2 separate regions of the Homo sapiens genome follow, and region 2 is linked to region 1. Evidence: fine-mapped expression QTL. A gene starts in region 1. The other region holds a variant in brackets. All regions are shown on one strand. Distances are from middle to middle.

Evidence for each region. PIP is the estimated chance that this variant, and not a neighbour inherited with it, causes the effect.
Region 2: its variant is fine-mapped to the expression of AGA in whole blood (TOPMed, PIP above 0.99). The same link has a PIP of 0.9 or more in CD4 T cells.

What each region holds. Positions count from the first base shown.
Region 1 is chr4:177,439,134-177,455,216 of GRCh38, forward strand. AGA (aspartylglucosaminidase) reads right to left here and starts at 3,304. Exons shown (of 9, transcript NM_000027.4): 1 at 3,116-3,304; 2 at 1,140-1,293; 3 at 443-555. The coding sequence starts at 3,242. It overlaps AGA-DT (AGA divergent transcript), which reads left to right and starts at 5,877. Exons shown (of 4, transcript NR_183779.1): 1 at 5,877-6,310. RefSeq lists enhancers at 2,350-2,429, 3,256-3,799, 3,890-3,969.
Region 2 is chr4:177,389,557-177,406,172 of GRCh38, forward strand. No RefSeq gene overlaps it. Among named protein-coding and RNA genes, the nearest start is that of AGA, 45 kb to the right of the region's middle. RefSeq lists a silencer at 3,814-3,873. The variant T/C (reference allele first, on the strand shown) is at 6,214.

The DNA of each region.
Region 1 (16,083 bases):
GCACTTTGGGAGGCTGAGGCGGGTGGATCACGAAGTCAAGAGATTGAGACCATCCTGGCCAACATGGTGAAACCCCGTCTCTACTAAAAATATAAAAATTAGCTGGGCATGGTGGCACGTGCCTGTAATCCCAGCTACTTGGAAGGCTGAGGTAGGAGAATCACTTGAACCCAGGAGGCAGAGGTTGTCGGGAGCTGAGATCGCGCCATTGCACTCCAGCCTGGGTGACAAGAGCGAAACTCCGTCTCAAAACTTCCATTGCCTTCTTCTTAGAGATGAAGAAGTAAAGAGATTTAAAAGTTACTTATCCAGTTCAATAGATGTTAAGTAAAACAGCTGGAATTTGAACTTAGATCTGGTTTTATCCATGATTTTGTACTATTTTTCAGTGAAAACTATAGTCAAAAGACTAGAAAAAATTTCAGTGTAGTTAAAAAAATACCTGACTCTCCTACTAAAAGTGTGTGTGTTGTATGTTCCAGTACTTTCCGTGCCACACCAATAGCATTTTTAATTCGTCTGAGATCTCCTACTGCTCCTACATCCATAGTAGTGCTGCAAGAAAATAGAATGCAGTTAGGAATTAAGGAGTTTTCAGAGGTTCATAGATTAAAAACATTGCTTTTCTCCAATCAATAGTGTTTTGCGGTTAAACTCCACCATCTTAACACAGAAGTGACAGCACATCCACGAAGTTCATATAGATTCCCACAATCAGACAAAATTAAGGAAAAAAAATAGAAAATCAACTTGCCATGTACCACAACAGCACTAAAATTCTCAGTTTCTCCAAGCTAATTTTAAATATGGCTTTTGAAAGGGGCCTGAAGGCTTCAGGTCAGGCAAACCACAGCATTTGTGGACAGCAGATAAATGATTGTTTATAAGGTCAGAGACATAGTTTTTTAGCTTGGCATTCTCCCAGTTCTAAGGGACTACCTATCTCTCCATGTGATATTTCTATTACTCTGATTTTTTTTTTTCAGTTGAGAGGGAAACTGTGTTTAGAAAGGTCAAGTATAATAAGCTAGGGGTTTTGATCTGTGTCAAAACTCATGCATTCTTTCATCTTGCTCTCAGAAGACCACAACTCTAAATGTAACTCAACATAATAAATAGGACCTGAACGGTGTTCTTACCCATCCATGATCATGGCATCTAGTGTGGTTTCTCCAAGTTCATCAGGACTTCCTCCAAAGCCTACAGAGCCGTCACACTGCTCTCTCTCACACATGGCACAGCCGCTCTCCACTGCATCCAGGGCAGAGCCTCCAGATGCTAATGCCCTCCACGCTGTTAATCAAATCCCAATAATGCTTGTTTATATATATATTTTTTTTTCAATGCCAAATGCAACAAACCAACTCCAATTTAACAACTTTTTCACATTTACTGAGTTAAGCTGATTTTTTAACACATTAGTTTATCAAGTGTTACAAAGGAGTCAGTGAAGAGTCAAAATTATTTAACTAGTTATCAGAAGAACTCAAAAAACTGGCTATTGGTGCAAGCTGAAGGTTTTTTTTTTTTTCACTTACTAATATCTATCTCTTCTGTGTGCGAGAAACGAAATCAGTATCCCCTCCTTTATTTTAAAAGGTACAATCGAAACCACTAAAAGGCAGTTAAATAAAAAATCCACTAAACCGCAGCCTTCTTCACACATTTCTTCTGCATCATTAGATTAAAATATGCATAATTGATATGTGTATTGAGGTAACACCTATCCCAGGAAGTCTTAATAATACTGAACAGCAAACAATTACAACGTGGACTTCATATGGATTAGTTCATTGAGTCTTCATAACAGCTTCTGTGGTAGGTACTGTACAATCACGACCCTCATTTTAAAGAAAAGTAAACAGAGCCACAGGTCAGGCAGTTAGTTTAAGGTCACACAGCTGGTAAGTAGCAGAGCCAGGATCCCATACATTTGGGGGTGTGGGGGGAAGGGTCTTTGATGGACAATTTCTTTTCTGGTAACAACAGAATTCCTTGAAGAGTGGGTGCTCTGGTTGGTAAACACTACAGCACCTACAGGCTTGAAAGTGTATTTACGCAAGTTCCCTCTTTCAATACAGGCAACTTAAACACAGAACTGTCCCCCGCCCAGGCTGATGCAATTTCTTTTCGTCTCATTATGGCTGGGAATATCTTTCTCACAGCCTGCTTCTTCATTTTCTCTGAATCGTATGCACTGCCACCAAATTCTGGAGCCAATTCTGCCCTAGAAAGTTAATACGTTAGCAACCTCAGATGGAGGAGGAGGGGTCTGAAAATGACTCTTCTGGTCATTAAGCAAATGAAAGAAACAAGCATAGTACAATGCGAAAATGCCAAGATAATGGTACGTAAAGGCTATTAACAAGGTGTAGAAGGCAGGAACCTAACTCATTCTGGACACGAGGGCAGTTAAGTCAGGGAACGCTTCCTGGAAGAGGTGATACCTTAGCTTAGTGGTTCTCAACCCTGTCTGCAAATCGAAATCACCTAGGGAGCTTTTTAAAGAAAAACAGTGGCCCTGATTCCAGCAGTTAGATCACAGTCACAGGAGGTGGGCCCCGGCAGGATGATTTTTGAGAAGCTCCCCAGATAGTGTGAATGTACAGCAAAGGTTGGAACCTTGAATTCTAAGTGGCAGGTAAAGTATGACAACACGTGGCAAAAAAAGTAAATGGGAAAAGAGTAGGCTATGGCTGGGACACTATTAGTCGTCTACAAAATTGCAAAGAAGTGAAGGATTAGAAACGAGAGGTGGAGACGTACACAGCCCGTGAAAAGACTGTCAGGCAGAAAAGCGTAGCTGCTACTTGATTAAAGCACAAAGGCCATAACTATGGTCAGCAGCAGGGTGGAAAATACATTGCGCTGGGGGCTGCATGAAGGGAGGACCTAAAATGCAACAGCGGTAGGTGGGGAGGATGCAGTAAAGGCCACTTGCAAGAGACTGAGCGGCGCTGGAGACTCGGGAAGACCTAGAGGGCGGGACCGCGAGGCCCGGCCCAGCCCGGCGCTCTTCCGTCCGCCCTGCCGGGTGACTGCAGCGGGGCGGGCTAGTCATCCCCACCCGCAAGCTCTCGCGGCGCAGCCGCCCGCCCAGGCCGCCAACCCGCACCTGCTTCGGTTGCATTCTTAAAGGGCCAAGTGTTGACGACCAGGGGCAGAGGGCTGGAGCAGCGCACTAGGGCCTGGCAGAGCAGAAACGGCACGAGAAGCACAGGCAAGTTCGACTTCCGCGCCATCCCTGACCACCGAAGAGACCAGCGCGAGAAAAGTCCCGGCAGCCAGCGATCGCCGAACAATTAATCCCCAGTGCCCCGCCCGCCTGGCGCCCACGCCCGCTCTCTCGGGGGTTCGCTCAGGCGTCCCTCAACTCTCGCGAGACGAGGCGTCCCTGGGCCCGCGGGAGAGTTGTGTCACGGGGCACTGAGCTGTTCCCTGCGCTAAGGTGCTTCTTCCTAAGTGCTGTTCAGATTTTTAAAATAGCCAGACAAGTTGCTGCTTTTCCTGTGGTTAAAATAGATTTAGCTTGATATTGGGAATTTAATACAAAATTATTCAACTCTGGGTTGCAGGGCCCCAGGAACTTTAGCCGATTGCTGTGTACTATGGATTTGGTTCTTTTACTGTCTTTTTAATTTAAAGTTGAAGTTGAAAAGTTTGTCAAACTCAGTATATTCTTGGGGATCCCAGGCCTCGGAGGTCTGCAATAGTTATGAGTGTAGGTGAAGCGTGTTTGCTTAGGACCGGATTGATTTTAGATTTTTTTTCCATTCATAGCGTCCGTCATTTTCGCACCACAGCTTTTTGTAGCACTTCCTCTCATTATAAATCCCTGAGCTGGAAGAAAAACAGAAACGGCCTATGTACCCTCTACCTAGCACACTGAAGTGCAGCTTCCTGCACCTCCAGGGCAAGACGGCTACCTCCATTCCTTTTTAAATGTATTTTTACCTTCCTGCCTGGCACTATTAAGTGCTAAATAAATGAATAAGAGGAGGAATGGGGATTTTACGTGCTTGGTGGAGGCTGCTCAGTTTTGTTGCTGGGCAGACGTGCGAACATGAACTAATAATCCCTTTGGGTGTCTGGAATGCCTGCCCAGGTTGCCAAGGCAAGACACATAATCACATAATTTTTAAAAGCATCTATAAATCTATACAAACTTTAAAAATATGAACTAGGCTGGGCACGATGGCTCACGCCTGTAATCCCAACACTTTGGGATGCTGAGGTGGGTGGATCACGAGGTCAGGAGTTCGAGACCAGCCTGGCCAACATAGTGAAACCCGTCTCTACTAAAAATACAAAAATTAGCCGGGCGTGGTGGTGCATGCCTGTAGTCCCAACTACTTGGGAGGCTGAGGCAGAATTGCTTGAAGCCGGGAGGTGGAGATTGTGGTGAGCCGAGATCGCACCACTTCACTCCAGCCTGGACAACAGAGTGAGATTCTGTCTCAAAAATAAATAAATAAATAAATGTAAAAATATAAACTAGGTAGGAGTTGTGAGACTTACAAAACCTTCAAGGCTCTTATTGATTGCTAGGAAATTAAATACATAATTTAAAGAACATAAGATAGCCCAGAAGTATCATTATCCCGTTGGGGAAGTGTTAATTAAAAGATATAATAAAGACAAATTTTCTAAGTTCCTTTCATGGGGTTTGGAAGAGGAACAAGTCATCTGTGCTGGAGTAATCATAACCCAATGGCAGGTGAAACTGGAAACTTGGGTGAAACAGGGTAAGAAAGCCAGAAAAACATACATTGTCCTCTGAGTAAATTTTCCTTAGCTCCTGGGCTGAGTATTTTTATGCAGCCTTAAGGAATTAGGACATGCCTTTAGCAAAAATTGTAAAATACAATACATGGAAAATTGGTCTTAGTACCCCACTGATCTCTCTAGCCTCTTCCTGTTTTTTAAGGTATTTGTGTTTCTTCTGGTGGAAAGAGCCTGATCTGTTACCTCCTACTATGTCTATTTCTCCAAATTCTTTCTTCTTAAATAAAAATTCCTGTCAGAGAAACAGCTAAATTACACTATAGTGGGAATGGCTGATAGAAGGTCTCAATATATCAACTTTTCCATGGATATTTGTATGTATGTATGTATGTATGTATTTATTTTTTGAGATGGAGTCTTGCTCTATCGCCCAGGCTGGAGTTCACTGGTGTAATCTCAGCTCACTGCAACCTCCACCTCCTGCATTCAAGCGATTCTCTTGCCCCAGCCTCCTGAGTAGCTGGGATTGCTACTGCCTACTACCATGCCCGGCTAATTTTTGTATTTTAAGTAGAGACAGGTTTTGCCATTTTGGCCAGGTTGGTCTTGAACTCCTGACACAGGTGATCCACCCACCGCCCCCACCCCCCCGACCTCCCAAAATGCTGGGATTACAGGTGTGAGCCACCGTGCCCAGCCGGATATTTGTATTTAAATAACTAATATGCAATCCCTATAGAATCTACCCGATTCAGTGTCTTCTTAGTGGCTACTAAAATACCTACTGGATCCACTGTCCAGTTTGCCTAAATTGTAGCTGTTTCTTAAGTTAAATTCGTCTGGATATTTGGTTCCTTCTGGAGTAGTTTTCCTTTGACTAACACTTGAAGAATAATTTTCATTTTAGTTCTAGAAGTAACCTTCTGTTACTCTCACTTAGGTGCTCTTTTGGGCCTAAATATAATTAGATCCTTCGCCGTTGTTTTGAGGTAAATCTAAACGAAAAGGAACACCTGTTAACAGGTAGTGATGCCGCAGGAAAGTGCTGGGAAGGGAATGCTGGGAAGGGAAGGGCGTGGTCCCTTTAAATGATAAGGAAGGGGGGCGGGAAGTGCTGGGTAGAGGAGGGCGTGGTCCCCAGCTAGGGCTTCATCCCTGGGCCTGGGCCTACCTAGGTGAAGACAGGCATTTTTGTTTTCCTGCCCGGATGTTGCATTTCCCAAGACCACCCTGGCCTGCCATGCCCTCATCCTGTGCCTTTAAAAACCCCCGAGACCCTGGCAGGCAGACGCACAAGCAGCTGGACATTGAGAGGAGCATATAGGCAGAGAATACAGGGGCTGCTGGATGTCGAAAGGAACGCACCAGCATAGGAGCACACCGGCATGCTGGCAGGCCATTGACCAGCGGAAGAATGCAGAGTTTGTCGCGGGAGGTCAGAGAAGAGTCAGGCCGCCATACCTGACTCCAGGAGAAAACCGTCTCCCTTCTGGTTCCCCCGTCTGCCGAGAGCTACTTCCACTCAATAAAACTTTCCACTCATTCTTCAAGCCCACGTGTGATCCAATTCTTCCCGTACACCAAGGTAAGAACCCGGGATACAGAAAGCCCTCTGTCTTTGCGATAAGGCAGGGGTCTAATTGAGCTAACACAAGCCGCCTACAGACGGTTAAACTAAAAGAGCACCCTGTAACACATGCCCACTGGGGCTTCAGCTGTAAACATTCACACCTAGACACTGCTGTGGGGTCAGAGCCTCACAATCTGCCCGTCTGTATGCCCCTATAGAGGTTTGAGCAGCAGGACACTGAAGAAGCGAGCCACACCCCCATCACACGCCCTGCAAGGGCGACAAGGGAACTTTTCCTGTTTCAGTAGTAGACCGTAAAATAAATGATCCTCAGTTTTTCCAGCATCCTCTCCAATTTTTCATTCTTTTAAATCATTATACACAGGGCAGAGATATTTAGTGTTACTGATAAATCAAAGGAACTATTTGTAAAAGTATTTTTATTTAAATTTAGAATGCATTACACAATTTTGTTTGGCAAAATGTTTCTGTTCCTAAGTAGAGCTTACTTATAACTAGCAATACTTCAGGAGGATTTTCCAGACTTAGATTTTAAAACTTAGGGTGTGGCCAGGCCTAGTGGCTCATGTCCATAATCCTGGCACTTTGGGAGGCTGAGGTGGGTGGATGGCTTGAGCCCAAGAGTTTGAGACCAGCCTGGGCAACATAGCGAGATTCCTGTCTCTATTAAAAAAAAAATTAAAAAAAGGTGACTGTGTATCAGCTGTGGTTAACTCATGTAAGCTTCCTAAGCCATGCTTTTCTCATCTATAAAATGGAGATAATAATAGTATTCTTTCTTATTTTACAAAGCTTTGTGAATGAGGTAGGAGATGTGGGAGAATGGTGTAATACCAGGCAAATTAAATAAAATTCTCTTATTCTAATTTGCCATTCCCAAGTACCTATAATTGATGTCAAGGAGGCAGTCCAGAAACATACAAGGCAGTAAAAAGAAATCAATTTGATCAATTTGAGACACAGAAATTTCCACAGGAAGAATAAAGAGTTGGCCCAATACCTATAATGCATTTGAAAGTAATCACTTAGAATTTCCTTGAATATATTAAATGAGAATTAAAAATAATGTTTTTAGTTTACTTGGAGCTGCCTGAAATTTGGTTTGAATGCTTATAAAGATGGTGCATGGCAGGACTGTGAGATTTCTGGATGTCTTAAAAACAACACCCTTAAGTCTTAACAAGGGGAAAGCCTCAAATGGAATCTTAAGTGATGTTGCAAATAGAGCCTTTGTGTGTTTGTGTTTGTGTATGTGTGTGTGTTGGAGGTGGGTGGAGGAGTTTCAGACCGCTGCAGGCTCTCTTATTTCCTCTAAACTTCATGGCTTTCAATTTATCAGTCTCAGAAGGATGAAGAGTTGAGTCCCTCCTGATAGCATTTGAAGCTGTGGTTCCACAGAGGATTTAATGCTGTAGTTGCAGGGAGTCTAGGTATTTCAATTCTGAGGCTTAAAAAACTAAGCCATCCCCTCCGGCTTTTGCACTGATGCTGTGAAATCCATTTGAGAAACATGTCCATGTTTTGCTACTTGTTCAAAGCTGTAAGCCTGACTTGGCATTGAAATGATAATTTCTTTTTCAAAACTCCCCACTGAACTATTACCTAGGTTATCTAAATATAGGCTATTTACTTGATTGGCATTTGCTCCTGTCAGTTTCATAAACTGTAAGTAATGATTTTTGCTGATGTTAGAGCATTGTGGTACTGTGTTTCTAATTTAAATCAATGTCTACATTAATCTGGGAACATTTGATGTTACTACCTGATTGTACATTCTGGATGTAATTAGAGTCATTATACAGAAATAAGTGTCATCCTCTTATTCTCTAAATGAGAAAAGAGAGCATTCTTCTCTTCTGAAATAATTTTTCTGGGTCATGCCCCCAAAACCATTTGTCAAATCAATAGCAGATTCTAATCACAAACTTTTTTGACTTTTTAACCTTTAAAAGTCATCTTAGTGACTTATAAAGACCAAGATTGTGCAGTAGAATGTGGGCCTATTAAGTTATTTCTTATCAAAATAAATTATGTACAACATATTTTCAATGTGTAATTGTAATACTGGGCCACTGCTGTGATATAGTTTTCATAACAAGGACATAGTAGACTATTAAACATGGTGGATCTTGCTTTTTGTGACAGTTGTTTATAACATTATGATGTCATCATAAATGTGATCCATTACAATAGTAAAGCCTTAGGGCAACAGAGTAGATGTCAGGATGTCTTCCTACCACTTAAAAAATGACTTTGACATTGTTAAGGTAGTGTGACAGATGATTTCAATAAAGAAATTCAACAATAAAAGCAAACTTCTAAACTAACAGTGACTTACAGGAAGTACATTATGCATTTAAAATGATATCTACTTGTCGATCATGACAATGAGTATTAGAAAACTATCCAAATAATGAACACATGTATCCTGTGTGTAGCTACACAAATAGTCTGTTAATTCTCAATCATTCATATAAAAATATGAAAGGAAAGATTTTCACATAACATAGCTTATTTTTTTCATTTTTTAGAAACACTTTTGTGTCCTTCAAATATCTCTGAAATACTCTAGCTCTTGTTGAAAATCACCAGCCTCTTAACATTTTGATATGTATCTGTTTGGTGAAAAATCTTGGTATTATACACACTGTTGTAGAACCTGCTTTTTTATTTAATATCTCTTTGACCTCTGCATATCATTAAAATTTATGCTTTTTAAAAACCTTCATTGTGCAATGTAAATACAGTAAAGGACATAAAATGTAAATAAATAGATTAAATAATTTTGTAGAAAATGAACAGCTATGTAATCACCACTTATATAAACAAACAGAATATTGTCAGTACCCCAGAAAACCGCTAAGGACCTCTATAACATGTTCTCTGAAGATTTAAAAAAATTTTATTTAATTTTTTATTTTTATAGATACGGGGTATAAGTGTAGTTGTGTTATATGTATATATTGAGTAACGGTGACGTCTGGGCTTTTAGTGTACCCATCACCCAAACAGGATACATTGCACCCAAAAGGTAGTATTTCATTCCTCACCCCCTCCTTCCCTCCTACCTTTTGGAGTCTTCTGTTATTCCACTCTAAATGTCTGTGTGTACTCATTGTTTAGCTCCCACTTACGAATGAAAACATCCAGTTTTTTACTTTCTGTTTCTGAGTTATTTCACTAAGGATAATGGCCTTCGGTTCCATTAACATTGCTGCAAACGACATGATTTCATTCATTTTTATGGATGAGTAGTATTCCATGGTGTGTGTGTGTATATATACATATATCACATTTTTAATCCAGTTGTTTGCTGATGGACATTTAGGTTGATTCCATGACTTTGCTATTGTGAATAGTGTTGTGATAAACATTTGAGTGCAGGTGTCTTTTTGATAAAATGCTTTCTTTCCCTTTGGTTAGATACCCAGTAGTGGGATTGCTGGATCGAAGGGTAGATCTATTTTTAGTTCTTTGAGAAATCTCCATGCTGTTTTCCATAGAGATTATACTAATTTACATTCCCACCAACTGTGTATAAGTGTTTCTTTTTCTACACATCCTTGCCAACATCTGCTGTTTCTTGCTTTTTTAGTAATAGCCATTCTGACTGGTATGAGATGGTATCTCATTGTGGTTTTAAATTGCATTTTTCTGATGATTACTGATGCTGAACATTTTTTTCATATGGTTGTTTGCCACTTGTATGTCTTCTTTTGAAAAATATGTGTTCATGTCTTTGCCTACTCTTTAATGGGGTTATTTGTTGTTTTTGTCATTGTATTGTTTGATTTCTTCCTAAATTCTGGATATTAGTCCTTTGCCAGATGCATTGTTTCCAAATATTTTCTCCCATTCTGAAGGTTGTGTGTTTACTCTGTTGATTACTTCTTTTGCTGTGCAGAAGCCTTTAGGTTTAATGAAGTCCCATTAGTCTATTTTTGGTTTTGTCACATTTCCTTTTGAGGACCTAGTGATAAGTTCTTTGCCTAGACCAATGTCCAAAAGAGTTTTTCCTAGATTTTATGATTTTATTCTAGAATTTTTATAGTTTCAGGTCTTACATTTAAGTTGAAGACTTTATTTCTTAAGAACAATTTTTGGTTCACAGCAAAATTGAGCAGAAAGTACAAAATATACCCCTGCCCCCACACATGATAGCCTTCCCACCAGAGTGGCACATTTGTTACACTTGATGAACAAATTCTACACATCATTATCATTCCACATCCATAGTTCATATTTTTTTTTTTTTGAGACGGAATCTTGCTGTGTTGCCCAGGCTGGAGTGCAGTGGCGCCATCTCGGCTCACTGCAAGCTCCGCCTCCTGGGTTCACGCCATCCTCCTGCCTCAGCCGCCCGAGTAGCTGGGACTACAGGCACCCACCACCAGGCCCAGCTAATTTTTTGTATTTTTAGTAGAGACAGGGTTTCACTGCGTTAGCGGTGGTCTTGATCTCGTGACCTCATGGCACATTTGTTACAGTTGATGAACAAATTGTACACATCATTATCATTCCACATCCATAATTCATATTAAGGTTCACACTTGGTATTATACATTCTGTGGGTTTGACAAATGTATACTGGCATATATTCCATTAGAGTATTGCAAGAATCCTCTACTCCATCTATTCATCCCTCCCTCCCCTCTAACTCATGGCAACCAACTGACCTTTTTACTGTCTCCATGGTTTTTGCCTTTTCTGGAAGGTCATTTAGTTGGAATTGTGCAGTATGGAGACTTTTTTAGATTGGCTTCTTTCACTTTGTAATACGCATTTAAGGTTCCTCCATGTCTTTTCATGGCTTGATAGCTCATTTTATTTAAGCGCTGAATAATATTCCATTGTCTGGATGTATCACAGTTTATTCATTCTCCTACTGAAGGACATCTTGGCTGCTTCCAAGTTTTGGGAATTATGAATAAAGCTGCTGTAAACATCCATGTGCACCTGGGTGTGGTGGTGCATGTCTGTAATCCTAGTTACTGGGAAGGCTGAGGCATGAGGATTGCTTGAGGCCAGGAGTTAGAGACCAGCCTGAGCAATGCAGCTAGACTCTGTTTCTAAAAAAAAATTTTTTTAAGTTAACTTTGTGGTGGCAACTGCTGCCTGTAGTCCCAGCTATTAAATGGAAGGCTGAGGCAGGAGGATTGCTCAAGCTCAGTGTTTCAAAACTAGAATGAGCTGTTTGCACCACGGCCCTCCAGCCTGGGGCAACACAGTGAGACCTTGTCTCTGAAAAAAAATTCCATGTGCAGATACAATGTAATTTTAAAGGATGTATAAAATCTATTTATGATGCACAGAAATTACTTAACCATTGATTTCTGTTGCTGTAAAAATTTTTGGCTTTGTATACGAAGAATTTTTTCAGAATTAATCTGTCAGATACTATGTTGAGTTTATATGATAGTCAGTAGCAATTAAAATAGCATCACGCTAGATCATGAGTGAAGGTCAGTATTAGGAATTCAGGACTCTGACAAAGCAGAGTTAGCGCTGTCTGTTACTAACACTAAGGTTTCTCAAGAGGGCAGATTTAGAGATTAAGCAGTTCTCCAAATTCAGGACAAATTCAGGGAGTCAGGTGGTTTGAGAGAATGGTATCATAAGAACTCTGATATGAGGAAGCCCCTCATATCAGAGGGGCTTGAGACAGTGTCTTGCTCTGTTGCCCAGGCTGGAATGCAGTGGTCCAATCTTGGCTCAAGATTGAGAGGATTGGCAGTGCATCCTCTGCCTCTTGGGTTCAAGCAACCCTTCCACCTCACCCTCCTGAGCAGCTGGAATCCCAGGCATGGGCCACCACACCCAGCTAATGTAGCTTCTGTGGAAGAGGCTTTTTGATCCTCCTATCATCTTTATAATTTTCTACTAACCACAGAATTGGGTAGCTGTGAAACCACTAACTTTTAATTGCACCCAGAGCTCTGAGGACACTCAGTAGTTTAGGTTCCCTTATTACTGGATGGCCCTTAGAATAAAGGCACAGCTTAAAAATGTTTTTTTTTAATGCCAGGTCTCGCTGTGTTTCCCAGGCTGGGTGCAGTGGCTATTCAAAGGTACAATGATAGCTCACTGCAGCCTGGAACTCCTGGACTCAAGCGATCCTCCTGCCTCAGCTGCGACTAACAGGTATGTACCACCGCACCCAACTCATAAATCATTAAACCCCTTGAATTTCATAGGTTTAGAGTTATGATCATGGTAACTCTGCAATTTTGTATTAGCTTTAAGTGCTTTCGGTTGCAAATAACAGAAAACTTAATGGTGATTTAAAGCGACAAGGCTTTACTTTTTTGCACCTAATAAGAAAGTTGCTGGCATTGGTTCAGTAGCTCTAAACTGTGAGAACTTACTTGCTGCTTTGTTTTCACAAGACAGCTACTGTTGCTCCAGACATACATCCACATTCAAGCTGGGGAAAAGGACAAGGACCTGGTATCAGCCACATCTTTCCCTTTTCATCCAGAAAGCAAAAGCCTTCTCAGACACTCCCAGTAGAATACTGCTTTATTCTCATCATCAGAACGATGCCACCTGGCCTTTTCAATGAAGTCTCCAGTACTCAACAATATTGCTTTCTTTTTTTCAAAAAATTTTGAAGGATCTGGATTTCGCTTCCGGATCAACATAGTATACAGTGGGGCCGGGAGCAGTGGCTCACGCCTGTAATCCCAGCACTTTGTGAGGCCAGACCAGGCAGATCACTTGAGGCCAGGAGTTCGAGACCAGCATGGCCAACATGGCGAAACCCGTGTCTTCTAAAAATACAAAAAATTAGCTGGGTATGGTGGTGCATGCCAGTAATCACAGCTACTCAGGAGGCTGAAGCAGGAGAATTGCTTCAGCCTCTCCCCTCCCCACCCCTCCTCTCCCCGCCTCTCCTTTCCTCTCCTCTCCTCTCCCTTTTCTTTTCAAAAGTATTTATTGGCTGCCATGTGTCAGAGGTTGCCGTGAGCTCAGATCAGGCCACTGCACTCCAGTGTAGGCAATAGAACGAGACTATGTTTCAAAAAACAAACAAAAAAGCCCCCAAACCCCACATGGTATATAATGGGAATAGCACATGCAGAAACAGAAGCTCAGATACTTAGGTGAGCTTGAAAATTTAAGACCTATGTAAATGTCTAGAAACGTTTTAAAGGACTTTGGACTTCAGAAGAGAATAAATTCAGAGTCTAAACCTATCTTATTTAGATCTCAAGGACCAAAGAAGCCTCATTCAACATCAGAATTATGACTGTGGTGCTCAAGGAGAGATAGAAAGGAAAATGACAGTTCTCCATCTGGGAGAAAAAGATGGTTATTTTTCAGAATAAGAGATTAAAGGAACATGGGGGATTAATGCCTGCTAATCTTGATCTTCTCTAAGAGTAGTAAAAATCACCTGCCAAGATTACAACAGATTTGAAATCGAATTGGTGACTAGAAATTGGTGAAGCATTTTAAAAGATTTATTATGGAAAGTCTTATGAAGATGGGCAATAACTGAACAAAAAAGATTGTGAAACATGAATGGGGGTCCATTTGAATCAAGTAGCCTAACATTGCTGAATCCTAGTTAATCACAGTCTTTTGCCTTTCTTCAGTATCATTTTAAAACACCTAAGTTATAACACTAAAAGTGAGGGTTATCCCTTACTGTAGAGGGAGTCTAGTTGGTTGATGGGAAATCTATTGGTATTGCTGATAATGACAAAGTGCAGGCTGGAGTTGGAAAATAAGGAGTTTGTAATAAATGATAACAGCCCTTTTCATATACCACTAACATTGTATTCTAGGCTTCAAAGGTAGGTTCAACCACAAATTGAAGAGGGTGTCTTGCAATATAAGGGTGACTTAGCCTTAGAAACCCTAACAATTGTTGCTTTTCATTTGCCTTCCTTTTTTCCTTACTTCTTTTTCCCTCCCTGCCTCTTCCTTCCTCCCTTCTCTTTTACTTTTTCCTCTCCCCTTCCCTACTCTCCCCTCCCCTCCCCTCCCCTGCTCTCCCCTCCCCTCCCCTGCTCTCCCCTCCCCTCCCTTCCTCTGCTCTCCTCTCCTTTCCCTTTTCTTTTCACAAGTATTTATTGGTTGCCTACCATGTATCAGGCATGTTTTTAGGTGTTGTGGATATAGTAGTGAATAAAACAGACAAAATTCCTACTCTGATGGAACTTACCTAAGCTACTAAACAAATGCATAGTAAGAGTTTAGAACTCATGGAGGAAATTGAAGCAGCATAATGGAATTGCTGAGGTGCGATGCTCATGGTGAGGTGATGAGAAGTGGATTTTTTTTGTTTTGTTGTTTTTTTATTTTTGTTGTCGTTGTTTTTGTTTGAGATGAAGTTTTGCTCTTATAGCCCAGGCTGGAGTACAGTGGCACGATCTCGGCTCACTGCAACCTCTGCCTCCCTGGTTCATGCGATTCTTCTGCCTCAGCCTACTGAGTAGCTGGGATTACAGGCGCCCACCACCATGCCTGACTAATTTTTATAGTTTTAGTAGAGACAGGGTTTCGCCATGTTGGCCAGGCTGGACTGGAACTCCTGACCACAGGTGATCCGCCCGCCCTGGCCTCCCAGAATGCTGGGATTACAGGCGTGAGCCACCGCCTGGCCAAGAAGTGGTTTTGAAGGAAGAACCTACAGGGCTTGGTGATGGCTTGGATATGTGGTGTAGAGTAGAGTAAGTGAAGCACCGAACTTTACCTAGTTATGTTGAACAATGTGACTGGACATAGTTTAGGATGAGGAATACATTTTCGGCCTTGGGTACAGAGTGACCTTGGAGTTGATTTAATGAATGTAGTACTCTAGCAGCTTTCTGAGCCTTATGAGACTGAAATCTATATTGTTCACAGTGGACTCAGGAAAATACTCACAGAAGTGATTGCTGGTATTGAGAGAGTAGCTTCATGAAAGTAGGAGTAGGACTCTCCTGCTTGATTATGATATCTTCCTCCAAAGAGGAGAGCCATATCCCTGACTGACCAAGCGTTAATGTTTAAGTCATCTGGAATAAGAAGAAAAGCTGAGGAATGTTAGAGGAAGACACTCCTTATATTTCCTTTCATGTCGAGGGTATTCAGTGAACCACTGTCTTTCTATTCCTTTGCTTTGAGTGGCTTCTTTGATTGATAAATTTTGAAAGACAAAACCGGGCATGCCAGCCTCATCTTTGACCTTGTTCCTGTTGATCCGGAGCTGCTTACAGGGACTGTGTTCTTTGCCTCTGCTTTGTCTTGCCTTGCTGCGTAAATCTGGGGTTGAATGCTAGGAAGTCCATTTGACTCTCGAAGCAAGGGATGGCCTCTGACTTAGCCTTTATTAACTATGAAAGTGGTCTTCAGTCCTCTCTGTGCCACTCCTTAATTTTATATTTCAGTTTACTGAGAACCCTGGTGGGGAAGAGAATTACTCTTTACTGAGTCCCCTAGAGAACCAAGAAGCAGTAAGAGAGTCACACCACTTTCTTCTGTTTCATAGCAGTTTGCAAAACAGAGTCACATGTGTGTTATCATCTATAGCTCCCATTTTTCTGGTGAAGGCATTGAGGTTTATAGAAGTTAAATGACAGGACCAAACCTATAGAAACTAAAAGTAGCAGTGAGATACTATATCTACAGCTCCTTACTACAAATACAATGTTTCTTTCTTCTCACCATGACTACTTTGGAGATACATTAAGGATAAGTTTTCTTTTTGTCACTGGGGTGGTGCATACATGCATCAGAGTTTGAGCAGCAGCATAGGGAATCTCTGTCAAATTGTGAAA
Region 2 (16,616 bases), 49 kb before region 1:
CCTCCAGGTCAGAAGAAGAGGATAATGATTTTTTAAGAGTATATCGAGAGATTGATGACATGAAGAAGAATTTCAGGCAGGCAAAGGAAATGGCTGGAAATAAATGTCTCAGGCATAACTGGTTTTCCACAGTTGTCTTTCAGAGCTGCCACAGGGAACAACTTCATAGCCTTATTGAGCATGAAGCAGTTAAAGTTTCCATTAAAATTGGCTAAATTAACTCTCCCGATGCTTTCGGACAAATAGTAAAAGGTCAGGCCTGATGTTTAACTGACTTCATAATATCTGCTTTTCTTTTATTTATTAATATTATTTTCACTTTCCTTTTTATTACCATTGTTTCAAATATGTTATTTAAAGTAACTACACATGAGAATGTTATGAAATAGTGAGGCAATATTAAACCAGTCCAAGCATGGTGCTTCTTTCCATAACCACCTTTATATCTAATTGCAGTCCTCGCCTTCCTGTTTTCTTATTGGACCACTAGGCTGGAATGTCTAAGCTGTGTAAATTCAAGCTCACTAGGCTTTTATCTTTGACAGTGCCTAGTGTCACTTTGGGAATATCTTGGGGAATATGTTACATCTGCACATTTTTTTTTCATTTTATTGTCTTTTCTTCCTTGCAAATTGTTACCTAATGACACATTAACTTGTCAGATTATTTGGTTACTTTCTGTTTCAATCATTTCTATTAATTTAATTTTTCACATCCAGTTTTCATGTTTACCGAGCAATTTTGATGTTCAGTTTGTTTTACTTTCCTTACACTACAAATTTCTTGTTTGAAATCTCCTGCCTTATTTCCAGTTTTTTTTTAAATCCCTTTTCCCTCCCTTTCTTTTCCCTCCTTCCCTCCCTCCCTTCCTCCCTTTCTTCTTTACTGTCTTTCTCTCTTTTTTCTTCCTTACCTGCTTCCTTGCTTTTCTTCCTTACTTCAAAATCATAGGGAAGGCTCACAGATACTCAACAATTATTCAATTGTTACATATTCAAATGGTAAGCATGTAAATGCTTACCATGTCCTAAACACTGTGCCAAGCCCATACATATATATTTTTTTAGTTCTCATAACCATTCTCTGAGGCAGAAATTATCATTCCCCTCATTTTGCAGATATTAAACCTCAGGCTTAGAAAGAACATGTAAACTGACCACGTAAGTCAGTGGCAGAGTCATAGACAGAATTGAGCTACGCTGCCTTTCCCCATAGGGTGAGATTCTCAACCATTCTGCCTGTAACTCTATCTCTGACTATAGCTGCAAAGTGTCCTCTAAAAAAGAAAGGATAACTGTTCTTGATGATATTCACCTCAGAAAAATTAAAGTTTATTCCAAATATCAGAGGCTTCCATTAATAGTATTTTATAAGACTATGATCTATAAATGTGTCCAAAGCCAACCTGAAGTCATTTATGTTTTTTACACTTACTATCTCAAAATGGTAGACTTTTCTAGAAGTTTTATATACATCCTATTAGCTGCTCTTCCTTTTAGACCTTTAAAGTTTCCCTCATTCGTCACCCCTTTCACCTGCATGGCATTTTGCCGGCTCACTGCCACATCTCTTCACTCCCTTCCCTTCCTTCTAACATTTTTGGCTTCTGTCGCATCTCTTCTCCACTTCAACTTTCCAGAGTCCTAATTCAGTTAGTCAATTGTCATTCACTGCCTCTGCTTTCTCTTGATTTCTGTAATTGCACTCCTTATGACCCCTTTCCCGTCCACCATATTCTTCTGAAAGTACAGATCAAATAGATGTCCCAACTTATTTCAGACAGGAAAGCTTTGATTGGGCAAATTATATTGTAAGTACTGTGAGGGCTGGGTTGAAAGAAAAATATGAGACTGAAAGCAGGAAAGCTCTTGCAATAACATGGATAAGAGGCAATGAGGTCTGCTGGGGGGAACCGTGGGCTGTGATGAATGGAATGCAGACAAATATGGGGTAAGATCCACTGCCGCCCACTTGCCAGCTCGGTGGCCCTGGGCAAATCACTGAAGGTCTTTGAGCTTTAGTGCTTTCATTTTCAAGATAAAGGTTGTAATATCTATCTTATTTGTTGCTTCAAGCATCAAAGGAAATACATTTATTTTGGCTTATAGGAGATGCTCCAGAAGTTGCAGTCTTCACAATTTAGATTTGGGGCAATTCGGTTGCAAAGAGAGATAGATAAGGGAAACAAAGACGAGAAGAATAAAAGAATGCCAGTAGGTTCAGTTTGAATTATCTCTGGCTTTCTAAATTCCTAGATTGTTCCTAACCTGCCACAATATATGTGGGTTTTCTTTGTCTTGTTTTCATCTGGAAAAACTTACCATCTTTGAAAAGATATGTTTTTGATAATACTAGCCTATATTACTTGCCAGTTAACTGCTATCTGTGAGTTTCTCTGTATAGGAAGTTGGAGGGGGGTAGTGATGGGAAAAGAAAAAAAGCGGTAGCGGAAGGCAGAAAGGTGGGCAGAAGAAAGATGAGAGTGGAGGGTGGCAGCAAAGGCAAGGTGTTACACAATCTTTCTTTTTGATTCATAGCACACACTTTTCCTGAGTTTGCTCCGGGTTGTTTTCAAAGAGTGTACAGATTTCCTGCTGATTATTGACTCTGCTTTACAATTCCAGCGTTTTGTCATAGTTTGTTTTTTAAAGTTGAGTAACCAAGCACATGTACCTTTGTCTATGCCGCTAATACCTCCTTAGTCACATAACAGCTGTTCCCTGGGTCTCTCCTATAGTGCTGTGACACGTTTGTACCCAGCAAGGAAATCATATCCCTCAGTCATCATTACTTTAGTTCTAATCATTTGCATTTCTATAATCTCTCCTATGATACACATTTGTATTTCAGAATTTCTTGCCCTAGTTAATGTGGGAGAATTAGCTAGAAGGTAAGTTATATAAAAAAATCTGTTTTCTTCCTTGTAATTGTCATCTAGAGGTCTCCCCTACCATTATATCCCTTGAAATTCTGAGTAACTACTGTATATGCTTGTATCTGAGTCTCTTGATCAATCTCAGGGAAAAAAGCATGCTATAGTATTATTATTATTATTATTATTATTGAGATGGAGGCTTGCTCTGTTGCCCAGGCTGGAGTGCAGTGGTGCAATCTCAGCTCACTGCAATCTCCACCTCCTGGGTTCAAGCAATTCCCCTGCCTCAGCCTCCCAAGTAGCTGGGATTACAGGCACCTGCCACCACTCCTGGCTAGTTTTTTGTATTTTTAGTAGGAAAGATGCGGGAAAACACAAAGCTGGGCTAGGGTGGTCTGGATTAAGAGAGAGGCCGTGAGTTGGGGAAATCAAAGGTTTACCACCTTCCAAACCACCACTATTTGCAGCCCTCCTGTTTGTCCTCTGCTAGCCAATGCTTCCCCACTCTCCCATTCTGCCTGTGGGTTGCCCCCTTTAGTCCTGACCTCCATCCCATCTCTCCTCCTTCCACCCATCCCAATCAAATATCTCTAATTTGGTAATTAAGAAGGATGTTCATCTAACTAGAATATTCACACCAGCGAATGGATGAGGCTTAACCCCTTCAGAGATCATTTCCATTTTAAAGCTGTAAAAATGAAGAAAGGGAATATTGGGAAAGAAATGGCCAGATCCTGCATTTTTGGTGACCCCATATCTGCTTTTCTAGAGGGCCAAGAGATGAAAATTATTCTGGCTGCATAATTTATAGCTATATGGATTTGAATTGTTGCTTTCCTCTTGCTTCTCTCTGACTTGACCAAGCACGTAGCTAGGCCTTTGTGCCGCTGTGCACGAGGGAAGCTTCATGCAGAAGGAAGGCGGGGAGTAAGTGTGGTTTGTGGTGAACTCTTTCTCGTGATCTTTGTTTTCAAGAATCCTGAGCTCCTCTAGGGGTCTGTACTAGAGCAGAAGGCAGGGAGACCAGGGCCTTTGAGCACAGTGCTCTAGAAGGAAACTGCTGCAGTGTGAGCTCGGTGGACTGTACTCCAGTTAGAGGGTCTCAGCTTTGTCCCAGGCTGTGAGGGGCACAGGAGTAACAAACCTGAACCTCAGAGGATACGTGGGTCTGAACATGAACACGTGTAAGGCATATAGGTGGGCTGGTCATAGGAGGACTGTCCCCATCTAGGCTACTCTGGGTGAGTCTCTCCCTGCCCAAAGAACGTTGAGGACCCTAAACTAGAAGGGCACTCACCGTGATGGAGATTGAATTCCCCATTAGGCAAGTTAGAAGGGGGCTCAGAGACTAATTTGTCTTCAAGTAAACAACATTTTTTAGTATATGGGGGTTTGTGGATTCAAACTTACACTCTACAAGAATCAACTTTAGAGCCATGTAAAATCTCCTTTCATCACTAGCTTGTAAATGATCACAAAACAAAAAGTAGAGTAAAATTCACAATCCTCTAGGCAGCAGTGCAGGTATTACTATATCTTCACTGTCTCCATGTTCTCTATATCATCATTTTACTCAAAGCTAGGCTTTGAGGAATCAGTCAGGTTTATTTTAAAACTGAAAATACAAATGTTAACAACGTCTTTTAAAAAACCAGAGTGTCTCCCAATAGTCCTAGCTCAGCTATTTCATTTTTACATATTACCTTTCACTGGCATAATTTTACACATTTGCAATTATGTCTTGCAGACTGTTTCTTTTCTTTCTCAAAGCCTATGAGGGTTAATGCTTCAAATAACCTGCTGAACTTGAGAAGAACTGACAGAAGATATCTATTAATTAATTAGCTCCAGAGAATGCTAGAGGAAAAATAAGAGTGGCTTGGTCTGGTCATTGTATGCCACACAAATAAAGGCTAAAGGGAGATTTTAAAGCATATCACTGGTTAATTGCATACTATTCAAATCCTGAACTAATGCTTTTTTCCCTCTACTTTTTTTTCTGCCACATATTTTCTTTCCTGAAACACCTTGGGTTCTCCTAATAACCTGGATTTTTAAATACGCTCAGGCCTATTCTGGCCAAATACCTGAACTTACAAGATTCCTCTTTTGTACTGTCCTGTTGCTCTTCCTGCGTTTGCAGATTGATAGAATAAGCACTGGAGGCTGAGCACGGTGGCTCATGCCTGTAATCCCAGCACTTTGGGAGACCGAGGCGGGTGGATCACTTGAGGTCAGGAGTTCAAGACCTGCCTGGCCAACAAGGCGAAACCCCATCTCTACTAAAAATACAAAAAAATTAGCCAGGCATGGTGCCAAAAGCCTGTAATCCCAGCTACTCCAGAGGCTGAGGTGGGAGAATTGCTGGAACCCAGGAGGCAGAGGTCAAGGAGGCTCACTGCTTCCTTGAACTCAGGAGGCAGTGAGCCAAGATCGCACCGCTGCACTCCATCCTGGGTGACAGAGCCAGACTCCTCAAAAAATAAATAGAGAAGCCACTGGATAAAGCAGGTCTTGATTCTAGTTCTCCTTCTGCCTACTTTTAGGAGCTTGGTAGGCAAGCCATTCAGCCTTTACAAACCTCATTTGTTATCAGCAAAATGTGAATTACAAATAGTGATTCTATCTACCTCCCAAGGTGGTTGTTAGGATCAAAAGAATCAAATCTGGGAAAACACTTGAAAAACTTTAACATGGAACACAAATGTAAGCTATTGCATAAGACCAAATTAAATATCTTACATTTAATTGTACTTTTTCCCATCTATCAGTTATAAGCAGGTCACCTGAATTTAAAAAATAACTGATACAGAGTAATGTGTGTGTGCATACCATTCTGGCCATAGAGCATACTGAGAAGACAATATTATAATTCACTGCCTAGTACCATTAGTTAGAATGTTTTCAATCCAACCAGGTGATCTACTTTCTTCCCAAGCAGCTTTTAAAAAAGGTACCAAACTGCCATTAAGTGAAAAAAATAACCATTTTATAAACTTCACAGACATTTACTCCTTTATCTTTCTTGTCATTTGCACAGAAAATAAAATTTGCACAGAAAGCACTGAGTTCACTTACTTGAGAAGTGAGGTGATTCGGTTTTCTCTTCCCTTTGGAATCACCACTTTCCTTCTGCTGTTATTCTATGTGGGCTTCACTAATCATAGAATGGCAGTTTCTTAATCAAAATTGTTTTATTTTGAACACAAAAGCAAATTAAGCAGATTTTTTAAGAGATGGAATCACACAGAGTTTATCTTACCTCCAAAGGAATGGATTGGGTTTGGTGTTTGAGTTTTATTAGGAAATTTATCATAAACTCAGGTCAGATATATTAA[T/C]AAGTATTATATTTGGCTCAAATGAAAGCAGAGGGGAAAATGACGTTAGGGATAGTGATGGTTGAGAAATAAAAGCCACAAATTATTTAATACTCCTGAGCAACATCAAACAAAACACCTCCAAGTTAAGGGATCACTTTTTACACAGCAATATTTACTATAACAGTGGTCCCAAAATTATTTTATGTTGAACTTAGGTAGTTGGTAAGACTAATATTCAATTTTCAAGAGACCGAAGTTCCTACCCCTTAGGTAGTTGGTAAGACTGTTATTCAATTTTCAAGAGACGGAAGTTCCTACTCCTGGTTTTATCATTCATTAACCTGTGAGCTAGCCAAAGTGTCATTTAAATGTGCTGATTCCTTTGTCTATAAAATGGGAATGTCTATTATTTTAAGTTATTATAAAGTTCAAATGAGAATACATGTAAAACTCTTTTCAAAAGGGAGCATGTGGAAGCATTATCATTATTCTCGATTTAACCAATAAGAAAAATTGTAATGTTAATCTCTTATAGTACAGATTTTGTGTTTTTTTTTACAAATCAAATTTTCCAAGAAATGTTTAAGGTGTTTTCTTATTTTCCAGAGTAATATTTATTGTTAGATTGAGGGAGTGGGTGGAAAGAATACAAATTCAAGTCAAAGTACATAAAAGCATATGCCTATTTAAAGTTTCATTTTCTTTCCCATTCTTATTGTGATATTACTCAGCATGATGTATTACGGGCTTTAGGGGTGATTTGTATTCATCGTAAAATTTTCTCTCAGTACTATTAGAGCCCATTGTGGGATGCTTAGGACTGTCTGAAAGTCATTTATCATTCAGAATTTATGATAAAACCACTGTTAGGCAGCTTCTAGACACTCTGTCATATTTACCCTTCTGGAAAGCAACATAGTGAAAGAACATTTGGGAAGTGACCTTGATGCTTTCATATTGTGCTATTGTAAATATCATTAATGCTAGAACTTTTAAACATCCATCCTATCAAGAATCAACTGCTAAGATGTCTAAAAAGCTATATTCCTACATTTCATTTCTGACTCTTTTCCTCAAATTGTAAATGAGCTGTTTCTAGCAAGCATGGTCCTTGATGTGGCATTGGAGTCTACTTTTTAGATCACTGACATTTACTAAGGCCTTTCAAGAAATGAAGGCCACATTCTTCAGACTGTATTTCTGGAAATTATGTGCATATTTAGCTGGATTTGTTTTTCTGTGCAAGGAAGAGACTAGAGACTTGCTGTGCAACGTTATTGGGATGCCCCCTTGAATAAGTCTCAAAGGTCTGAGCAGCTGCTCAGAATGGGAAGTTGTGCTTCTTTGCCAAGACAAGTATTTTTCATTTTCTAGAGTCATAGATTACATTGGACAGAGAGAAAATGTTCTGGATTCTTATTGTCCCAGTGATACCACCATACTACCTACCTTGCATGCAAGTTGGTGTTGAACAATGCAGTGAATCTACAGTGCTAGTGTGTATTCTTCCTCCTTATTAGGGCAATCAAGAAAAAACAAAACTACCTTTGTCCAGAATTTAAGACGATGACAACTCTCAGTTTTGAAGGGTAGAAATTATTTAAGTGCTATTTTTTTCTAGCACCAAAGCCACTTCTTCCGTACAAAGTACTTAGATTGTAAAAGTTTCTTGTAAAAAAACACACAAAAAACTTCCATGATTCCAAGGAAGAAAAAATGCAAAAACATTACACAGTCCCCCCAGAGAGTTGGATGCTGTCCCTTTTTCAAGGCTTGTTGCTCCATTTCTTTTCTCCTGACCCTACCCACCAATATAACCAGTCTCTCCTTGCCTAACATGTCCTTAGACTTTACTCAAACTGTTCCCACTACTAGTAATGCCATTACCTGATACTCCAACTGTTGAAGTCCTACCCTTCCTTCAAGGCCCCATTCAAATTCTGCTTTCTAGGTCTTCCCATATGTTCTCCGATCAAAATGATCTGTCTTCAGATATACCTTCATGATAATTTGCTTATACTTCTATTAATGGCTTATCGTCAACCTTATTTTATCATTAGTTATCTACTGTGTTTGAAATAAAAAATGGGCAGCATGTTGGTTGTCAAGAATTGTGGAGCATCTGAGATTTTATCCAAAAGTAAGCTAACATGTTTACCTATCAGATTCATGAATGCTGGCAGAAGACATGAAACTCCTGGGTCAGAGACAAAGGACTTTATTACACAAAGATATAGCAGTAGCTGGAATATCAGCATTTGTCCCAGTTCTCTAAACTCCAGTTCCCAAGGGAGACACAAAGAAGGCCAGGTAACGCCTGCATGTGCAGTGGGTTGCCCTGTGGAGAGGAACCCTGAACTCACGAAGCCCAAATCCTTTATAATAAGAAGTAAACCTTACTAAATTTTGCCTGGAGACATTAATTTATTATTCTAAACCACAAACAAACCTGTCCTTTGCTCCAGAGGCAGCTCCCTTTACTGTCTTCCAAGTCTGTTCACTAAACAAACATCCTTAGAAAGATACCCCAAAACAAAGGTGGTCTGTACCTCTGCACCTCTGTCCGTAAGACATGAAGAAATGTAACAGACCCAGAAAATTGATTCCCAACATTAGTTTCCTCTATACTGCCCACCCTTCCCCTTGATTATAAGCCCCTAGAGGGCAAGAAGAATGTCTTATTATAGTTCTCATGGAATAAATGCTGTTTGTTCAAGAAAGTCCATTACATCTTCTGAGTAAATAGAATGATCTACCAGAGATGTTAATAATTTCCTATGTCAACACACTATTTTTAGAGAAATGTTTCTGCCCCAGCTGTCTGGAGACCAATGAGAATATACATTTTTTTGACAACACAGTCTCCCTGTTCTACATGAGTTTTTCTCTTTGGGGGTAACTAATTCTCAGGCCTTCCATTTCCTATTTCTTCTCACTCCTTGCCACAAACACAGTATTTTTCTACTTTTATTCTTGCCCTCGCCAATACCAAATCCTAGGAAAAGAGTGAGATTCATTTGCACCGGGTATAAAAAGCTTTAGTGTCACCCATCTGAGACTTAATGTCAACTTCCATTAAGTGGGAAAGAAATAAAAATTTTGAGAATGTAGCAATTGCTAGAAACCATAATAAATAAAAATGTTTGACTGCTGTTCTTGAAATTGTTCATTCATAATACATTGATGAACATCTACCCTACCTACACACAAGAGTAAGCTTCAGGAATGAGTATTCATACTACAAGGAAGTTATTTACGATGGAAGTACTCTGAGAGTAGAAATACAGCATTTTTATTATCACTTATATATCTGCTATTTTAAAGCTAACACAAAGCAACACAAAATGGTTTTGAATCAGGGACAAGAAAAAACATTGTCCCTGCTAAGACAATCATGTAGTAGTATATATTCTTTGTCTAAGACAATTCTTACATAGGACAGGCACGGTGGCTCACATCTGTAATCTTAGCACTTTGGGAGGCTGAGGTGGACGGATCATGATGTCAGGAGATCAAGACCATCCTGGCCAACATAGCGAAACCCCATCTCTACTAAAAATACAAAAATCGGCTGGGTGTGGTGGTGCGTGCCTGTAATCCCAGCTACTAAGGAGGCTGAGGCACAAGAATTGCTTGAACCCAGGAGGCAGTGAGCCGAGATCACGCACTGCATTCCAGCCTGGCAACAGAGCGAGACCTCGTCTCAAAAGAAAAGAAAAGAAAAGAAAAGAGAAGAAAATTCTTACATAACTCAAGGTTTTTTTCTTCAAATTAACACCCCTTCTAAACATTGAGAGTGCCAAGAGAGTTTGAAAGGGCCAAAGGGGATGGTGATGATCTTAACAGAAGAAATATGCCTGTATGAGTATGGCATATTTGAGTGGTGTGAGTGGTAGCTGCATGGATTTTATAAAAAGTTCAAATAATGCCTAGGGGATACACTGCATTGTATTTAATGCAGCATTTGCATGGGAGTTGCCAGAACTCTCAGAGGTGCTTTCATAGTGTGTCATTTTTAAACTCTGTAGGTATAAAGATGGTTGTGATAATTATGGGCCAATTTTGCTAGTTAATATTCACTGCAAAGTATCAGACCCCATATATTCCATGCCTGGTGCCACTCCAATATTCAGGATTGCAAGTCAAAGTTACCACCTCAGAGAGAACCTCTCTGATCACCAGTCTAAAGCTGCATCTATACCCCATCAGTCAGCCTGAAATGATCTTAGTGGTTTATTTGCTTATTGATAATTTTCTCCTTTCTCCCTCCAGCACATGAGATTTGGGAGTCTTGCCTATTTCTTTAGAGTTGTATCCCTGGGCCTAGAACAGTGTCTGAGACACGGGGAAAATCAAGAAATAATCAAAGAGAGAATGGATCTATTGTTCTACTCTTTTAGGCCACAGTTTCCATTGGTATGTGCAGTTTTCTTGGCAGTTAGCAACTGTTCTCAGCAGAGTGCTGGCCAAGTTTGCTTTCTCAAAACCCACAGATGATAGGTGAAATCCTCATGGCTTGACGAGGAAGGAAGAAGAATCTTTCATTCTTCTCTCACAGTAACTGTGGTTTCCTCCTTCTAATGCTATTGCTTCTCCTTATTTGAGATTTGGGGTTGTGTTAGGCCATTTTTTGCATTGCTAGAAAGAAATACCTGAGACTGGGTAACTGAAAAAGAAAAGAGGTTTAACTGGCTCATGGTTCTGCAGCCTGTGCAATAAGCGTGGCACCAGCATCTGCTCAGCTCCCAGTGAGGCCTCAAAGAGCTTTTACTCATGGCAGAAGGCAAAGTGGGAGCAGGCATGTCACACTGCAAGAGCAGGAGCAAGAGAGAGAGGAGGGAGATGCCACACTCTTTTAAACAACCAGACCCTGCATGAACTCAGAGCGAGAGCACAGATATCACCAAGGGGATGGGCCAAGCTATTCATGAGGGATCTGCCCCCGTGACCCACTGCCTCCCACCTCCAACACTGGTGATTCCATTTCCTTCTTTTTTTCTTTTCCATTTCATCATGAGATTTGGAGAGAACTAACCATATCAGGGTGTTTTTCTGAGTATAGAGAGAATCATTCCTGGTAACTGTTGGATTTTTCAGCAGTTCATCCAGTCCACAGACCATCTTCCCTTCAGTCCCTCCCACCACATCACACAGCCTCCAGCAATTTGTGGGGAATATTTGTTTACAACCGTGTTATGCATATACACATATGTGTGTAACATAGATTATGCATATTTCACACTGATAAATACAAAGAAAATAATGATAGGGGTGCAGGGAGAATGCACACCTGCTGATTCTCACATTTTAAAAGGAAGTACTGGCCGGGAGCGGTGGCTCACACCTGTAATCCCAGCACTTTGGGAGGTTGAGGCAGGCGGATCACGAGGTCAGGAGATCAAGACCATCCTGGCTAACACGGTGAAACCCTGTCTCTACTGAAAAATACAAAAAATTAGCCGGGCATGGTGGTCGGCGACTGTAGTCCCAGCTACTCGGGAGGCTGAGGCAAGAGAATGGCGTGAATCCGGGAGGCGGAACTTGCAGTGAGCCGAGATAGCGCCACTGCACTCCAGCCTGGGTGACAGAGCAAGACTCTGTCTCAAAATAAATAAATAAATACAAGTACTAATTTTATGAGGGCAATTTCAGGTAATAAAACTCTTCTATTTAGTAATTGGGCTAGGTTCTATAAAATATGAGCCACATCAAATCTCAGATGATTTAGGTCACATTGAGTTTCAGATTAGTCTGCCTTTCTGAACCTAGGCAGACTTCTAATAAATATATTCTGGAAAAAAATGCATATATTTCTCTCACCATCAACCCCAAGAAGGACATATGTGATATTTTTCTAGTATTATTTCTAACACAAGCCATCCTTATATTCACCCTCCTCCCTCTCCTGTTTCTACAATTCTGCTCATTTCACATTTTCTGCAGAAGCAGATTTCCAGAAGGAAAAATCAAAGACCTAACAACTGCTGTTAGCACAGGAGTTGACCTAGGAAAGGGCTCCGCATTTGCAAGTTGGAGGCGTAATCTACCTCGCTGTAGATAACTGTCTGTTTCCTTCTGTGGCCCTAGGGCTTTCCCAATTCATCTCGCTGATCAAACCTGGTTACTCAGAGCCTGGGGTGTGTTTGTGAAGGACAGAGCAGGCTGTATTTAGGGAGAATGCCTGTTAACACATAGAAAAAGTGACTTAGTGTTGGCAAGTCTTTCATTTCCCTATTTATCTACATTATTTCTTTACATGGATGTTTCTAACATCACAGGAAGTACTGTGGCTTTCTTGCTGTGTTTTTGTTTTCCTACTCAACCAATATGGTCACCCTTTCCTGTTCACTAAACCTAAAGCAGGAAGATTCTTATACACTCTCCGCATGCTTCCAGGAAAGACTCTGTTGCTTGTTCCTTTGATTGAGGAGATTGCATTGCAAATAGGAAGATATCTTGAGAATGATTAGGAAAGGCTTTTATTCTGGAAATGCTCAAGTACTGAGGTGAAGAAAGATGAAGACCTGCAGAGCTGATTCACATCCATTTAATTGTTATGTAGCAGGACAAGCCACAGACAAAACCCCTCAGACACCGAGTTAAAGAAGGAAGGGCTTTATTCGGTCAGCCAGGGGCTTCGCCGGCAAGACTCATGTCTCCAAAAACAGAGCTCTCTGAGTGAGCAATTCCTGTCCCTTTTAAGGGCTTACAACTCTAAGGGGGTCTGCGTGAGAGGGTCGTGATCGATTGAGCAAGCAGTGGGTACATGACTGGGGGCTGCATGCACCGGAAATCAGAAGGGAACAGAACAGGACAGGAATTTTCACAATGCTTTTCCATACGATGCCTGTAATCTATAGATAACATAATTGATTAGGTCAAGGGTCGATCTTTAACCAGGCCCAGGGCGCGGCACTGCGCTGTCTTCCTATGGATTTCATTTCTGCCTTTTAGTTTTTACTTCTTCTTTCTTCGGAGGCACAAATTGGGCATAAGACTCTATGAGGGGTGGTCTCCTCCCTTAGTTACAGGCCAAATAAATACCAAGAGGAAGGAAAAACAGAAATTCTCAACTGAGAATGTGGCATTTTCATTGAAACACTAGTAATCAGCTAAATGAGATTTAGGGGCTGATATTTATATTTACAAGAATTTTTCTTTCAATAATAAGAAAAGGCCAGGCACGGTGGCTCAAGCCTATAATCTCAGCACTTTGGGAGGCGGAGGCGGGTGGATCACTTGAGGTCAGGAGTTCGAGACCAGCCTGGCCAACATGGTGAAACCCTGTCTCTACTAAAAATACAAAAATTAGCTGGGCGTGGTGGCGTGCATCTGTAATCCCAGATACTCAGGAGGCTGAGGCAAGAGAATTGCTTGAACCCAGGAGGCGGAGGTTGCAGTGAACCGAGATCTGGCCATTGCACTCCAGCCTGGGTGACAGAGTGAGACTCTGTCTCAAAAATTAATTAATTAATTAATTAAAGAAAAACATATTTAACACAGTGTTGAAAATGATTCAGAACTTCCCATCTGACTGAAAAAATCAACAGATTAAGTACTCTGCACTCTTATCTAGTAGAAGTCATGATTCATTGTAGCATTTCAGAGACATTGGCTTTAGTTTCCATTTTGTGAAAAATTAAGAAAGCCAGTAGCTTAACCACAAAAAAACCTTGTTTTATGTGTTAGCTCATAATGATATCCTAATATCACACAAGACAGTGATTTAATCCATAAGGCAAAGAGCTCAAATTTCACACCCAGCTGTCACTTTCTGCCTACCCTGTATAAAGAATCACCTAGTTTCCTTTTTAATCTTACCTCTGTAAGCAATTCCTTCATCTGACTCACAAAGTTCTGAGGGTTGTATCCTTACCTTAAATATACGGATAGCATTTTCACTGAGACTTAAATTATCTCACTGTGGTAAGAAGATAAACATGATTCACCAGGAAAAACAGGAAAGTTGAACATTTAAAAAATAATATTAAACTATTATAAAACATATATGGAAATAAAAAAAACAACAACTAAACTTCACCAGATGGTCAGAGACTTCTAGGAGTTCTGTATACTCAAAATGCTTTGAATAAGATAAGCTTTTTTTCACCACCTTGAAATGTAACGACCCAACAGGTTCACCTTGCCCACAGCCTGGACAGAGCCCGTTTATCAAGACAGGGAACTTGCAGTGGAGAAAGAGTAATTCATTCAGAGCCAGCTGTGCGGGAGAGCGGAGTTTTATTATTACTCAAATCAGTCTCCCAGAGCATTCTGGGATCAGAGTTTTTGAAGATAATTTGGCGAGTAGGGGCTTGGGAAGTAGGGAGTGCTGATTGGTCAGGTTGGAGATGGAAACACAGGGAGTCAAAGCGAGTTTTTCTTGCTGTTTCCTCTTCCTGGGTGGGGTGGCAGAACCATTTCAGCCGAATTACGGGTCTGGGTGGTGTCAGCTGATCCACTGAGGGGTGCAGAATCAGCAAATTATCTCAATTACTGATCCCAGGTTTGACAATAGTGATGGTATCCCCAGGAGCAATTTGGGGAGGTTCAGACTCTTGGAGCCAGAGGCTGCGTGACCGCTGAACTGTAATTTCTAATCTTGTAGCTAATTTGTTAATCCTGCAAAGGCAGACTGGTTCCCAGGCAAGAAGGAATTTTTTTCCAGAAAGAGCTATTATCCATTTTGTTTCAGAGTCAAACCATGAACTGAATTCCTTCCCGAAGTTAGTTTGGTCTATGCCCAGGAATAACAAGGACAGCTTAAAGGTCAGAAGCAAGATGGAGTCGGTTAGGTTCTTTTACTGTCATCATTTCCTCAGTTATAATTTTTGCAAAGGCAGTTTCAGAAACACAAAAAACAAATCTGAAAGCACAGAAGCACACAGACACACATTGGATCGCCAGTTATGATACAGTCATTGTTTCAAATCTTTCTCTCCCTGTAGCAGTGAGAGCCTGGTCTGAGATAGGACCTACTGTCTGACAATCTGAAAAAAACAGAGGAAGGTTCAAGTGCCACGAAGAACCCCTTTCAATCTAACTCTCAAATGTGTCAACTGAAAGGTTAAATAACAAGCACTGTAACTTAAAGAAATTTAAAGTGAGCTTTATTCTGGGCCAAGTTTGAGGATGATAGCCCAGGAAACACAGAGTCAGGGCAAAACGACAATGTGTCCCCAAGTGGGCTACACGAGGCACAGTATTTATACATTCCTCCTACGCAGGAATGGGAGAAGGGGGCAGTCAAGCAAAGGCGACAATCTTACAATTCTGTTTGTTGCTCAGTGGTCTTATACATAAGATACAGCAAATATGTGGTTAAGGCATAGAGGGTAAAATGTTTAAGAACATGTGGGCATCTTAGGGCCAGAGAGGAATGACCTGTTCTACTGTGCCCTTGTGAATCATCTGCTAGGCAAGGCTGTAATCAGTACAGGTCAGTGAAATATTTGACAGCCTCAAGCCTTGCAGACAAAGGTTCAGCTCTAGTTCATGGGCGTCGTTTCCATTACCATATATCCAACCTGTAACCATCTTGGGCTGCTTTTAAATATTTTCCCTTCAGATTTTCCTTTTTCTGACATGTAGAATGAAATCAAGCAGAACGCTACTCTGACTATCTCAATTTATATATTTTCTAAAAACAAAATTTGACATTTGCATGGTAATCTTTCAGCAAATTTGGCAGAAAAAAAACCCAATTCAAATATTTCAAAAGAATTCCACCTGTTCTTTTAAAAAGTTATTGGAGACCCATCAATGACAAAAAATACCTTTCAAGCTCTCCCTCAAACAGTGTCACATTTACCAGGTGACATTTTCTTCTACTTCACATAACTTATCTGACACAGGAGCATATCAGCAATATACTACAGGGAAGATAATTGGAATCAAGAAAGCTAATCCACCTTTCTGCTTCAACTGTCAGAGAAAAAAAATTGAAGTCGCAGCAAATACTTTTAAAAGCACAAGAGTAGAATGTCAATTTCCTGACTCAGCAACCCAAACAAAAATGACAAATCTATTCACAAAGCCGGAAGAATCTGCCACATCTGGTATTCAGTGGCATAATGTGCTTTCATAGCTAACTTGAATGGAAGTTATAGGAAAGAAAGATGTGACAATCCCTTTGCCCCAGCCTCCATGTAAGGATATCATACGTGCATAAGGGGATACTGCCCAATAAATTCAGCTGAGTTAAAGTGTTAAACTAGTACTTTGGTCTAACAGACCAAAAGTTTCACAAAAGTAATTCTAAATGCAAGAAAGGACAATGATTTCCATAATACTTGTAGAAAATGATGTCACCTGGCCACAAAGTTAATTGGAAAGCAAAATGGACCCAGGTAAATCTTAACACACTGGTATTCACACACCCCCATCTTCCTTATGCCTGGAAGCAGATTCCTAAGCATTGG